Linked DNA regions of Homo sapiens. The protein of the gene in region 3 binds, or shares a complex with, the protein of the main gene of each other region. Each region holds a gene or a part of one and is shown on either strand. Other genes may lie near its edges. The genes, in order: MED12, MED25 and MED24.

Region 1 (3,647 bases), on a different chromosome or scaffold from region 3:
TCTTTACTATAGCTGGGGAGATGAGACTTATAGAAGAATATTGAGAGAACACTCTGAGCAAAGATATAATCAGGTATGCAGTTGTATGCTATGAGGTAAAATGTGGATTGAGAAAAAGTACGTGGTAATATCTGTGGGCCTGACTCATCAGAGAATGTTTCATGAAGGAGGTCAGACTTGAGTTGGCCTCTGAAGAATAGCTGTGATTGGGATTTGTGGAGAAGAGGAAAAGAAAGGGCATTCCAGGTAGAGGATGTAACGTGAACAAAGACATGGGGACCAGAATGAGGATGGTGCCTGGGGAGAAGGGCCTGGATGGAGTGTAAAATCTGTGCTGGGGAAGTCACTGGGGCTAGGCTAGGAGGGGGCAGGCTGAGAGATGGCCTTGAATGCTCAGCCGAAGAATTGAGACGCAGTCCCAGAAAGGGCTCTTTTGATCAGAAGAGTGATAGGAGGAGTTGGGTATGTTGCAAGGTTCCTTGGAATGAATGGATAGGATGTGTACTGGAAGGTGCAAGAAGAAGACTTCAGGCCAGGCACGGTGGCTCATGCCTGTAATCCCAGTACTTTGGGAGGCCCAGGCAGGCAGATCACCTAAGATCAGGAGTTCGAGACCAGCCTGGTCAACATGGTGAAATCCCGTCTCTACTAAAAATACAAAAATTATCTGGGTGTGGTGGCATGTGCCTGTAATCCCAGCTACTTGGGGGGCTGAGGCAAGAGAATCACTTGAACCTGAGAGGTGGAGGTTGCAGTGAGCCGAGATCGCATCATTGCACTCCAGCCTGGGCAACAGAGTGAGACTCTGTCTCAAAAAAAAAAGAAGACTTGAGACGGGGAGCCTGGCCAGTAGACTCTTGAAGTGATATACACATGTGGTAGAACAACTTGAAATGTTATTTGGGAACAACAACAGCAACAGCAAAAAACCTCAATGAGTGTTTATAGAATGCCTATCTTGTGCTAAGACTATTTTTTTCTTTTCTTTTCTTTCTTTTTTTTTTTTTTTTTGAGATGGAGTCTCGCTCTGTCATCCAGGCTGGAGTGCAGTGGTGCAATCTTGGCTCACTGCAACTTCCACCTCCCAGGTTCAAGCAATTCTCCTGCCTCAGCCTCCTGAGTAGCTGGGATTACAGGCATCCACTACCACGCTCAGCTATTTTTTTTTGTATTTTTGCTAGAGATGGGGTTTCACCATGTTGCCAGGCTGGTCTAGAACTCCTGACCTCAAGTGATCCACCCACCTTAGCCTCCCAAAGTGCTGGGATTACAGGTGTGAGCCACCGCACCCAGCCCTATTTTTCATTTTTGTAACAGAAAAATAGCTAATGCAGAATTGAAAAATTCCTAACCATTAAGGTTATGAGACACTAAAATAGAGTATCATCTTATGCAACTTATTCCCCAGACTGGAAGTCTGGTTAGTGACACGAGGAATGAATGAAATAACCTGCTAACGTTTCTTTCAGGTCAGGGACCCAAGGTTTATACTGACCCCCTCTCCTCACCTCCCTCATGCCTTGACCTCTGACCCTCTTATCTTTGGAGGTTTTCACACCAGACACTGCAGCAGACACCCATGATAAGTACCATGACTCCAATGAGTGCCCAGGGCGTCCAGGCAGGCGTCCGTTCAACAGCCATCCTACCTGAGCAGCAGCAGCAGCAGCAACAGCAGCAACAGCAACAGCAGCAGCAGCAGCAACAGCAACAGCAGCAGCAGCAGCAGCAGTACCACATCCGGCAGCAGCAGCAGCAGCAGATCCTGCGGGTAAGGCACTGGGATTTCATCTGGGACCTGGGAGCCCAGGGAGGAAGAGAGGCACAAGTTCTTCCCACACAGTTACCGAGACTAAACAAGGCAGTGTACCAAAACACCTAGCAGAGCGGCTGGCCTCTAGTGGTGCTGGAGAAGTTTTCTACCCTCCCCCTTTTTGTTTTCTGGGGATCATAGTGGGAGAGAGTTGGACATTGTCTGCTGGGTACCCTAGATTTGGTTTCTTTCTGTGCAGCTGTCTAAAAAGGGAAGGCAGTAGACCCCGAGCTCCCACCCTGCTTCCTCATCCCCTGCCCTCAGCCCTTTAGTTCTGAGGCTTAGCTTCCTCCCTCTGCTCCTTCTGAAGTATCTTTTGTGTTCTTATAGCAGCAGCAGCAACAGCAACAGCAGCAGCAGCAGCAGCAGCAACAGCAACAGCAGCAGCAGCAACAGCAACAACAGCAACACCAGCAGCAACAGCAGCAACAGGCGGCTCCTCCCCAACCCCAGCCCCAGTCCCAGCCCCAGGTAGCTGCTGGACTACAGCCCCAGGCTCAGGGACAGCTGCCCAGGTTGGGCACGCAGCCAGTGAACTGGGTTGGGGACAGTATGGAATAGGGTAGAGGTGGGAGGCAGGGCATGGCACCCTAAAAATGGATTGGGAGGCCAGGCGCAGTGGCTCACGCCTGTAATCCCAGCACTTTGGGAGGCCAAGGCAGGTGGATCACTTGAGGTCAGGAGTTCAAGACCAGCCTGGCCAAGATGGTGAAACCCCGTCTCTACTAAAAATACAAAAAATAATAATAATAAATAAGCCGGGCATGGTGGCAGGTGCCTGTTATCTCAGCTACTCAAGAGGCTGAGGCAGAGAATTGCTTGAACTTGGGAGGCAGAGGTTGCAGTGAGCCAAGATCATGCCACTGCACTCCAGCCTGGGGGACAGAGCGAGACTCCATCTCAAAAAAAAAAACGGATTGGGAAAGGAGGTTGAAGAAGGAGAAAAGTTCGACTTCAGTCTTCCACTTCCTATTTCCACCCAGTTCCAGCGCCAGGGGCTTCAGCAGACCCAGCAGCAGCAACAGACAGCAGCTTTGGTCCGGCAACTTCAACAACAGCTCTCTAGTAAGCCTGCCTGCCTTCCCAAGGAGAACCCCATGGAATAAATTTAGGGGGCGGGGTGGGCCAAAGTAGCTGAAACGATAGCTTCAGGCCCAGGTTATGAGAGGAGGCATTCCATTCCATCCCCTTCCCTCGATACCTGAACAGCTTTCCTCGTGCATACCCACACCCCTGCCTGGTCTTCCATCCCTGATAATCTCTGGTTTTTCACAGATACCCAGCCACAGCCCAGTACCAACATATTTGGACGCTACTGAGCCACCTGGAGGAACTGCTTGTGCACTGGATGTGGCCCCACCCTTTCCTCTTAATTCCCAATCCCATTCCTGGGCTAGCACCAGTAGTGGTTGGGGCCCTCCCCTCAGGCTCCATTTTTAATAAGTTTTTAGTATTTTTGTTAATGTGAGGCATTGAGCTGTTGGGTTTTGTATATTATTTATATAGAGACCCCAGAGCTGTTGCACCCAATACACAGAGCTTCTTTGCAAAGGGAGTGTGCGAGTTCTGCATGTCTGGGAAGGGTGGTCTCTTGGGAGAATGCAGGGGGTTGGACCAACAAGTCAGAGTCTTCATTCTATTCTGATCATCTCCCCTGTTTACCTTACACTCTAAAATTTCTTTTTTTCTTTTTTTTTGAGACGGAGTCTTGCTCTGTCGCCCAGGCTGGAGTGCAGTGGCGCGATCTCGGCTCACTGCAACCTCTGCCTCCCGGGTTCCAGCGATTCTCCTCCCTCAGCCTCCCGAGCAGCTGGGATTACAGTTATGTGCCATC
Region 2 (3,647 bases), on a different chromosome or scaffold from region 3:
AGAGCAAAGAGGAAGCCCCAGGCCTCTCTTGTTTTTGAGGAAGGGTCTCACTCTGTCACGCAGGCTGGAGTGCAGTGGCTCAGTCACGGCTCACTGCAGCCTCGACCTCCTGGGCTCAAGCTCAAGCGATCCTCCCATCTCAGCTTCCCGAGTAGCTGGAGTAGCAGGGACGGTAGCCAAATGCCAGCACACCTGGCTGATTTCTTAAAAATATTTTTGTAGGTCGGGCGTGGTGGCTCACGCCTGTAATCCCAGCACTTTGGGAGGCTGGGGCAGGTGGATCACCTGAGGTCAGGAGTTCGAGACCAGCCTGTCCAACATGGTGAAACCCTGCCTCTACTAAAAATACAAGCAATCATCCTGCCTTGACCTCCCTAAGTGCTGGAGTGCTGAAATTACAGGCCTTAGCTGGGCATGGTGGCGCATGCCTGTAATCCCAGCTCTTGGGAGGCTGAGGCAGGAGAATTGCTTGAACCTGGGAGGTGGAGGTTGCAGTGAGCCGAGATCACACCATTGCACTCCAGCCTGGGCAACAAGAGTGAAATTCTGTCTCAAAAAAAAAAAAAAAAAAAAATTTTGTAGTGGCGGGGCACGGTGGCTCATCCCTGTAATCCCAGCACTTTGGGAGGCCAAGGCGGGCGAATCACCTGAGGTCAGGAGTTCGAGACCAGCCTGGCCAACATGGTGAAACCCCGTCTCTACAAAAAATACAAAAATTGGGCAGGCGTGGTGGCTCACGCCTGTAATCCCAGCACTTTGGGAGGCTGAGGCGGGTGGATGATGAGGTCAGGAGATGGAGACCATCCTGGCTAACACGGTGAAACCCCGTCTCTACTAAAAATACAAAAATTTAACCGGGCGCGGTGGCAGGCACCTGCAGTCCCAGCTACTCGGGAGGCTGAGGCAGGAGAATGGCGTGAACCCAGGAGGCGGAGTTTGCAGTGAGCCAAGATTGCACCACTGCACTCCAGCCTGGGCAACAGAGCAAGACTCTGTCTCAAAAAAAAAAAAAAAAAAAAAACCATACAAAAATTAATCAGGTGTGGTGGCATGTGCCTTGTAATCCTAGCTACTCAGGAGGCTGAGGCAGGAGAATCACTTCAAGCCAGGAGGTGGAGAGATCGCACCACTGCGCTCCAGCTTGGGTGACTGACTGACTGAGACCCTGTCTCAAAAAAAAATTGTTTTTTTTGTGGAGACAAGGTCCTGCAATGTTGCCCAGGCTGGTTTTGAACTCCTGGTCTCAAGTGATCCTCCACTTCAGTGTCCCTAAGTGCTGGGATTAGAGGCATGAGATGCTGCACCCAGAGGCCCCACTAGGCTCTTTGTAATCAAGTCTTGGAAGTTACACGTCATGTCATTATTTCTGTTACATTCTTTTTTTTTTTTTTTTTTTTTTTTTGAGACAGAGTCTCGCTCTGTTGTCCAGGCTGAAGTGCAGTGGTGCGATCTCAGCTCACTGCAAGCTCCGCCTCCCGAGTTCACGCCATTCTCCTGCCTCAGCCTCCTGAGTAGCTGGGACTACAGGTGCCCGCCACCACACCCAGCTAATTTTTTGTATTTTTAGTAGAGACAGGGTTTCACTGTGTTAGCCGGGATGGTCTCGGTCTCCTGACCTTGTGATCCACCCGCCTCGGCCTCCCAAAGTGCTGGGATTACAGGCGTGAGCCACCGCGCCTGGCCTACATTCTGTTTTTTAACCTGAGACAGGGTCTTGCTCTGTTGCCCAGATTGGAGTGCAGTGGTGGGATCATAGCTTGCTGCAGCCTCGACCTCTCGGGCTCAAGTGATCCTCCCACCTCAGCCTCCTGAGTACCTAGGACTGCAGGTGGGCACCACCATGCATGGCTGATTTCTTTATTTTAATTCTTGTAGAGATGAGGTCTTGCTGTGTTGCTCAGACTGGTCTTGAACTCCTGGCCTCAAGCGATCCTCCTGCCTTGACCTCCCTAAGTGCTGGAGTGCTGAGATCACAGGCCTGAGCTGCGGTGCCAAGTCCACTTCTGCCATACTGCATTTGGTGTGCAGTATAAGCCTATCCCGTTCAGTGTAGGAGGAGACTACCCAGTGTGTAAATAGCAAGAGGCTGGATTGCTGGGTGCTGTATTGGGGGCTGGGTACCGCAACCTCACAGCGATGTTTGGAGAATTAAGTTAGTTGATGATGTTTAATACAGTGCCTGGCATGTATTAAGTGCCGTGTAAGTGTTTCCTAGGATTTTGTGCCTCACTCTCCTGGTTTGCAAATGGATAATGGTCGCGTGTATCTCCGTGTTGTTAGAAGATCACAGGAGCTAAGTTGCTTGCTGTGTGTCGCTTAGGGCCTGGTCTGCAGTCAAGGTTCATTAAACAACACCTGTTCGTAGCGGCCGTTACCTCTGTATGCTTCTGCAGCAGGTGTTTGTTGAGTATCTGCTTTGTTCCAGTATGTGCGTGCAAGTGCTGGGTGCAGGACATATAGTGAAAAGGTGACACAGAAGCTTCCCCTTCGCGGTAGCTGGAATTCGTAGGTAACACAGAGCAGGGTTTCTCATCCTTGGCCCTAGTGACACTGTGGACACAGTCATTCCTTGTAGTGGGGGCCGTCCTGGGTATTGTAGGATGTTTAACATCATCCTTGGCCTCTACTCACTAGATGCCGGTAGCCCCCTCCCAAAGGTGTGACAACCAAAAATGTCTCCAGGCATTATAAAATATCCTCTGGGAAGGGGGCGCAAAATGTATTCCATTTGAGACCACTGGGAGAGACCGGTAAGACAGTCTTGAGTGATGTTAAATGGAGACTTCTTGAGGCCCAGGTCCAAGTCTGATGCTCCTCAAGTGCCTGGCAGCCAGCACAGGGCCTGGTACACAGGAGGCCTCGGGTAAATTCTGTAGAATGAATGTCCAGAATGCATTTAATACTAACCACCCTGGAAGACACTGCATAGCCTTCCAGACCCAGCTCAGGTGTCTTATACCCTGGGAAACCTTCCCGATTCTTGCAGCCAGATGCTTCCTCCTCTGCCTCCATGACCTGTCACAGCCCCACACCTCTGGACTGTGAATGTCCAGGTCCCTGGGTGCTTCTGCCATTTGCTTCCAGCTGGGGCTTGGCACCCACGGGGCTTCAGGAGACTGGCTGAATAAATGAATTAGTATGTAATACAAAAACAACAAATAAATAGAAAAAATTAACCAGGCATGGTGGTGCACACCTGTAGTCCCAGCTACTCAGGAGGCTGAGGTAGGAGGATCAACTGAGACTGGGAGGCAGAGGTTGCAGTGAGCCGAGATTGTGCCACCGCACTCCAGCCTGGGTGAAAGAGCGAGACCCTGTCTCGGGAAAAAAAAAAAAAAAAAAGAGGTGGAAGGAAAATAGACCCAGTGTGTTTCCCATAACATTATGACAACTCAGTTGTTCATTCATATGTTCACTCATTAATTCAACAAATGTTTGTGGAACAAATCGTCCTGGGCACCAAGGAGTTAGTGGGCATGAGATAGGCAAGGTCCTGGCCCTCATGGAACTAGTTTGCCTGGGTGACAGGCCGTGTGTAGGGAGCCCTTGGTCATGGCCGGATGCTGTTAACATTCACTCATTTTGACCTCCTGGGGCTCCAGGCACCTGTTAGCCGATGAAAGCGGGCAGCAGAGACCCCGGGGAAT
Region 3 (3,647 bases):
GCACACCTGGCAATTTATCATTAGTCTTTTTTTTTTTTGAGACAGAGTCTCGCTCTGTCACCCAGGCTGGAATGCAGTGGCGCGATCTCAGCTCAGTACAACCTCTGCTTTCCGGGTTCAAGTGATTCTCCTGCCTCAGCCTCCTGAGTAGCTGGAATTACAGGTGCATACCATCGCGCCTGATTAATTTTTGTATTTTTAGTAGAGATGGGGTTTCACCACGTTGGCCAGGCTGGTCTCAAACTCCTGACCTCGTGATCCACCCGCCTTGGCCTCCCAAATGCTGGGATTACAGGTGTGAGCCACCGCAGCCGGCCTATCATTAGTCTTAAATGCTCTGAAAGCACATTTAAGATTAAAGGAAGATTCAGGATTTTTATTTATTTATTTATTTTTTTTTTGAGACAAGGTCTCACTCTATCGCCCAGGCTGGGGTGCAGTGGCATGATTTCGCCTCACCACAATCTCCGCCTCCTGGGTTCAAGCAATTCTCGTGCCTCAGCCTCCAGAGTAGCTGAGATTACAGGCACACACCACCACGCCCAGCTGATTTTTGTATTTTTAGTAGACATGGGGTTTTGCCATGTTGGGCAGGCTGGTCTTGAACTCCTGGCCTCCAAGTAATCCACCCGCCTCCAGCCTAGGATTTTTACTTTTATCACAAAGATGGGTATGAGTTAAAGAGCAGTGACTAAGAGTGTAAAACTCTGGTCTGAAGACATCTGTGCTTTCTTTTCCTTCCTGTTCCCTGTACCCCCAGGCACGGTCCCAGTCACTTGCAGCCCAAACTTTCGACAGGAGGTTGAAAGGCACGCAGCAGCCCCACCGTAACAAGAGAGAGGTCAAGGGGCTCTTGGGGTAGCACAGGTGCGTTCACACTTACCGCTTAGCCATAAGGTTGTTGACGCTGGCCTCAGACAGAAGCCCCTGCTTGCCACATTCTTGGAGCAGGAAGTTTGTACAGTCACAGCTGTGAGGGAGAAAGATGCTGAGGGAACTGGGCACCTGGATAGGATGGTGAGGGGTGGGAGTGGCAGGTCCCTGAGCAGCATCCTCCCTCTTTCAGGATGAGGAAAATCTGGAGTGCCTGAGGGACGGTAGAGGGGCTCTGGGGACTTGGCAACTGTGGGCTCCTATTTCCTGCCCCTGCCAAGGGGAGTGAACAAGGAGACAGAGTCCCCTGAGGCTTCTCTGGCACAGAGATCAGGGGAAGAGCCCAGAACGCCTTCCAGTAGGGCGGGGGTGACCAGGGGAGCTCATACTTGCAGCGCTGGTCAGCTTTGTCCAACAAGGGGGTGAGCTTCAGCAGGAACTCAAAAGCACAGTTGACATCCTCAGTGAAGTCCTAGAAAGAGGCAGAAGTGTCCATCTGGTTTCCAGGGCCACCAGGCCCTGATCATCTCAGGCAACCTTGTCTGCTGGAGGCATCGGCCTGAGTTGCCTGGCTGCTTTCTGCCTGGAGCCTGGGTGTATGTTGTGGGTGCACGCAGACGCTGAAGCACACACACTGGCTGAAGCACACGTACACGCTGAAGCACACACACGCTGAAACACACACACTGAAGCACGCACACACTGAAGCACACGCACATGCTGAAGCACACGCACATGCTGAAGCATGCACATTGTGAAGCACGTGCACGCTGAGGTGTACACTCACATCCGGCTCTCTTCCAGGCATGAGAACACTGCCCAGCTGGGGCCTGAAGGACCCTCCCCTTTGCCCTTATTTCTGCTCCCATGCCTCCATCTCAATCCCCAACTCACCTTGTCTCCATGAGAGTACTTCTTCAACTTCACCAAAACCTGTGGAATCTAGGGGGTGAGGCAGGGGGAAAAACAGGAAGATCCATTTCTTTTCTCTTTCATCTACCCCTGAAGGCATCCCCCCGAACCCCTGCTCCAGGAAGAGAGACAGGAACACTCCTACCCTGGGAGTGAGAGCACACTTAGTGCTAAATGAGAAAGCCAATAGGTGCCCAGGCCCCTGATGCCCCCAGGCCTAGGCACAGGACACAAGCACCCTGCACCTCCGCTAGCTCAACAGAAAAAGATGCCATAAGCAAAAGTGGATCCCCAGCTTCAAGGAGGACTGGGGCCCCTTTCCCTGGCTCCCTTTACTGCCCTGCACCTATCTGTCTGATGACCAAGCTAAACTGCACCTCTGTGGTAAGAAACAACGGAGTCTGCCAAATGGGCTAAATATAGCCCTGGCACTTTCAGAGAAAATGATCAATGGGAACTTGCACTGGAATACCTGGCAGGCTGGGCCCAGTGCCCGCAGGGAGGAACACAGGGCAAAGGTCCAGGGTGCCACTGGTCTTGCTAAGAACCATTCCTAGACTGGCTCTGCCCCTCCCACGTCCCCAGTACCTTGAGGAAAGTGAAAGCTGTCCACTTGAGCTCCTCCGTACCCTCGGGAGACTCAATGAGCCCCACGAAGCAAGCTTTCCAGATCTCCAGGACAAAAAGTGGGGTGGGGATATGCTGTGGGAAGAGCCAAGGATGAGGCCTAAGAGGGTGCCCATACCCCGTCACCCTTCTGTGGACTCTGAGGATTTGGCTGGGTCAGAGACTGCATGGCAGAGTCACTGCTCAGCTATGTGCTGAGAACCAGGGGAGTAAGGTCCAATGACAGAAGTGTGCACGACTGGCACCCACTTTCCATCATGGAGCAGGAGAAACCCCACTTCTCCCAGGGAGAACCAGAAGAATCCTCCCTCCTGCCCCCAACAGGCTGGCCTGCCTTGGAGAAGGGAGAGCCACTCGGCCCCTCCCACCTGCATGCGCTTCACCATCGTCAGCTGCTCCACCAGGGACTGCGTCTCGCCTGTCAGGTTCATGGTGCCCTCGAGCAGGATCACGGCGTGGACAGTGGGGAAGCCGGTCTTGTGCATCTGCTCCGCATGCACAGACAGCATCGTGGGGATGCTGAGGGGTCACAAACACAGGGGACGGTGTTTGGGGGGCCAAAGGTGAAGGCGGAGAGGATGGCACGGGTGCCACATCTTCCTACCCCAGGGCGTGTCCTCCCTCTCCCTTCTCCACCATCCCCCAGGGAGCCGGTACCTCCTAATGAGGGTGCCACACTGCTCGGCCTGACTCCGGAGCTGCGGGTTGCTGAGATTGGCCAGGATCTCTCCAAGTTTCAAGAGAGAATGCTCGATGGCAGTCCAAGAAGCTGGCAGAGGGAAGGAAGTACAGAAACATGATGGGAAACAGGAGAGAAGGAGCACCTGGCCCTGAACTCCTCGATTTTGGCACTCCCTCCGGCACACGAAACCACACAGGAAGGCTTCCCCTGAGGACAACAGGGAGGGAGGGGCCTGAGGGCAGCATGCACTGTTTCCAGAAGGGGGGTGGGCACCTAGAGCTGGAAACCCCAGAGACCATTCCCAAAAGCCTGATTTCCAGGGGACACAGCCAGCTGACTTCAGAAGGTATGGCATCACACAGGCTCAGGAGAGAGAGGCAGAGGGAGGCCAGAATCCAGTGGCTGGAACAGGGAGGGCGGCCACAAATCACTCGAGGAGTGAGCGGATCCCAAAGTCCAGTCTTGCAGAGGCTGTCACTCTCCTCTGGGGGAACTGGGTCCCTAAATGGCTTTCTCATTCTCAACCACTCCCTCATCTAGGCATTGCGTTTGC

Evidence for each region.
Region 1: MED24 (region 3) and MED12 share a complex: the UniProt entries of both Homo sapiens proteins name them as parts of the mediator complex.
Region 2: MED24 (region 3) and MED25 share a complex: the UniProt entries of both Homo sapiens proteins name them as parts of the mediator complex.

The regions. Positions count from the first base shown.
Region 1 is NC_000023.11:71,139,087-71,142,733, forward strand, and holds the end of MED12 (mediator of RNA polymerase II transcription subunit 12), read left to right. Parts: intron 1-1,548; coding exon 1,549-1,771; coding exon of another isoform or gene 1,772-1,882; exon of another isoform or gene 1,883-2,143; coding exon 2,144-2,284; intron 2,285-2,796; coding exon 2,797-2,878; intron 2,879-3,088; coding exon 3,089-3,132; 3' UTR 3,133-3,364; downstream 3,365-3,647. UniProt on the Homo sapiens protein: Component of the Mediator complex, a coactivator involved in the regulated transcription of nearly all RNA polymerase II-dependent genes.
Region 2 is NC_000019.10:49,821,264-49,824,910, forward strand, and holds part of MED25 (mediator of RNA polymerase II transcription subunit 25), read left to right. Parts: intron 1-3,647. UniProt on the Homo sapiens protein: Component of the Mediator complex, a coactivator involved in the regulated transcription of nearly all RNA polymerase II-dependent genes.
Region 3 is NC_000017.11:40,030,276-40,033,922, forward strand, and holds part of MED24 (mediator of RNA polymerase II transcription subunit 24), read right to left. Parts: intron 3,182-3,647; coding exon 3,070-3,181; intron 2,932-3,069; coding exon 2,781-2,931; intron 2,488-2,780; coding exon 2,374-2,487; intron 1,816-2,373; coding exon 1,768-1,815; intron 1,346-1,767; coding exon 1,263-1,345; intron 971-1,262; coding exon 884-970; intron 1-883. UniProt on the Homo sapiens protein: Component of the Mediator complex, a coactivator involved in the regulated transcription of nearly all RNA polymerase II-dependent genes.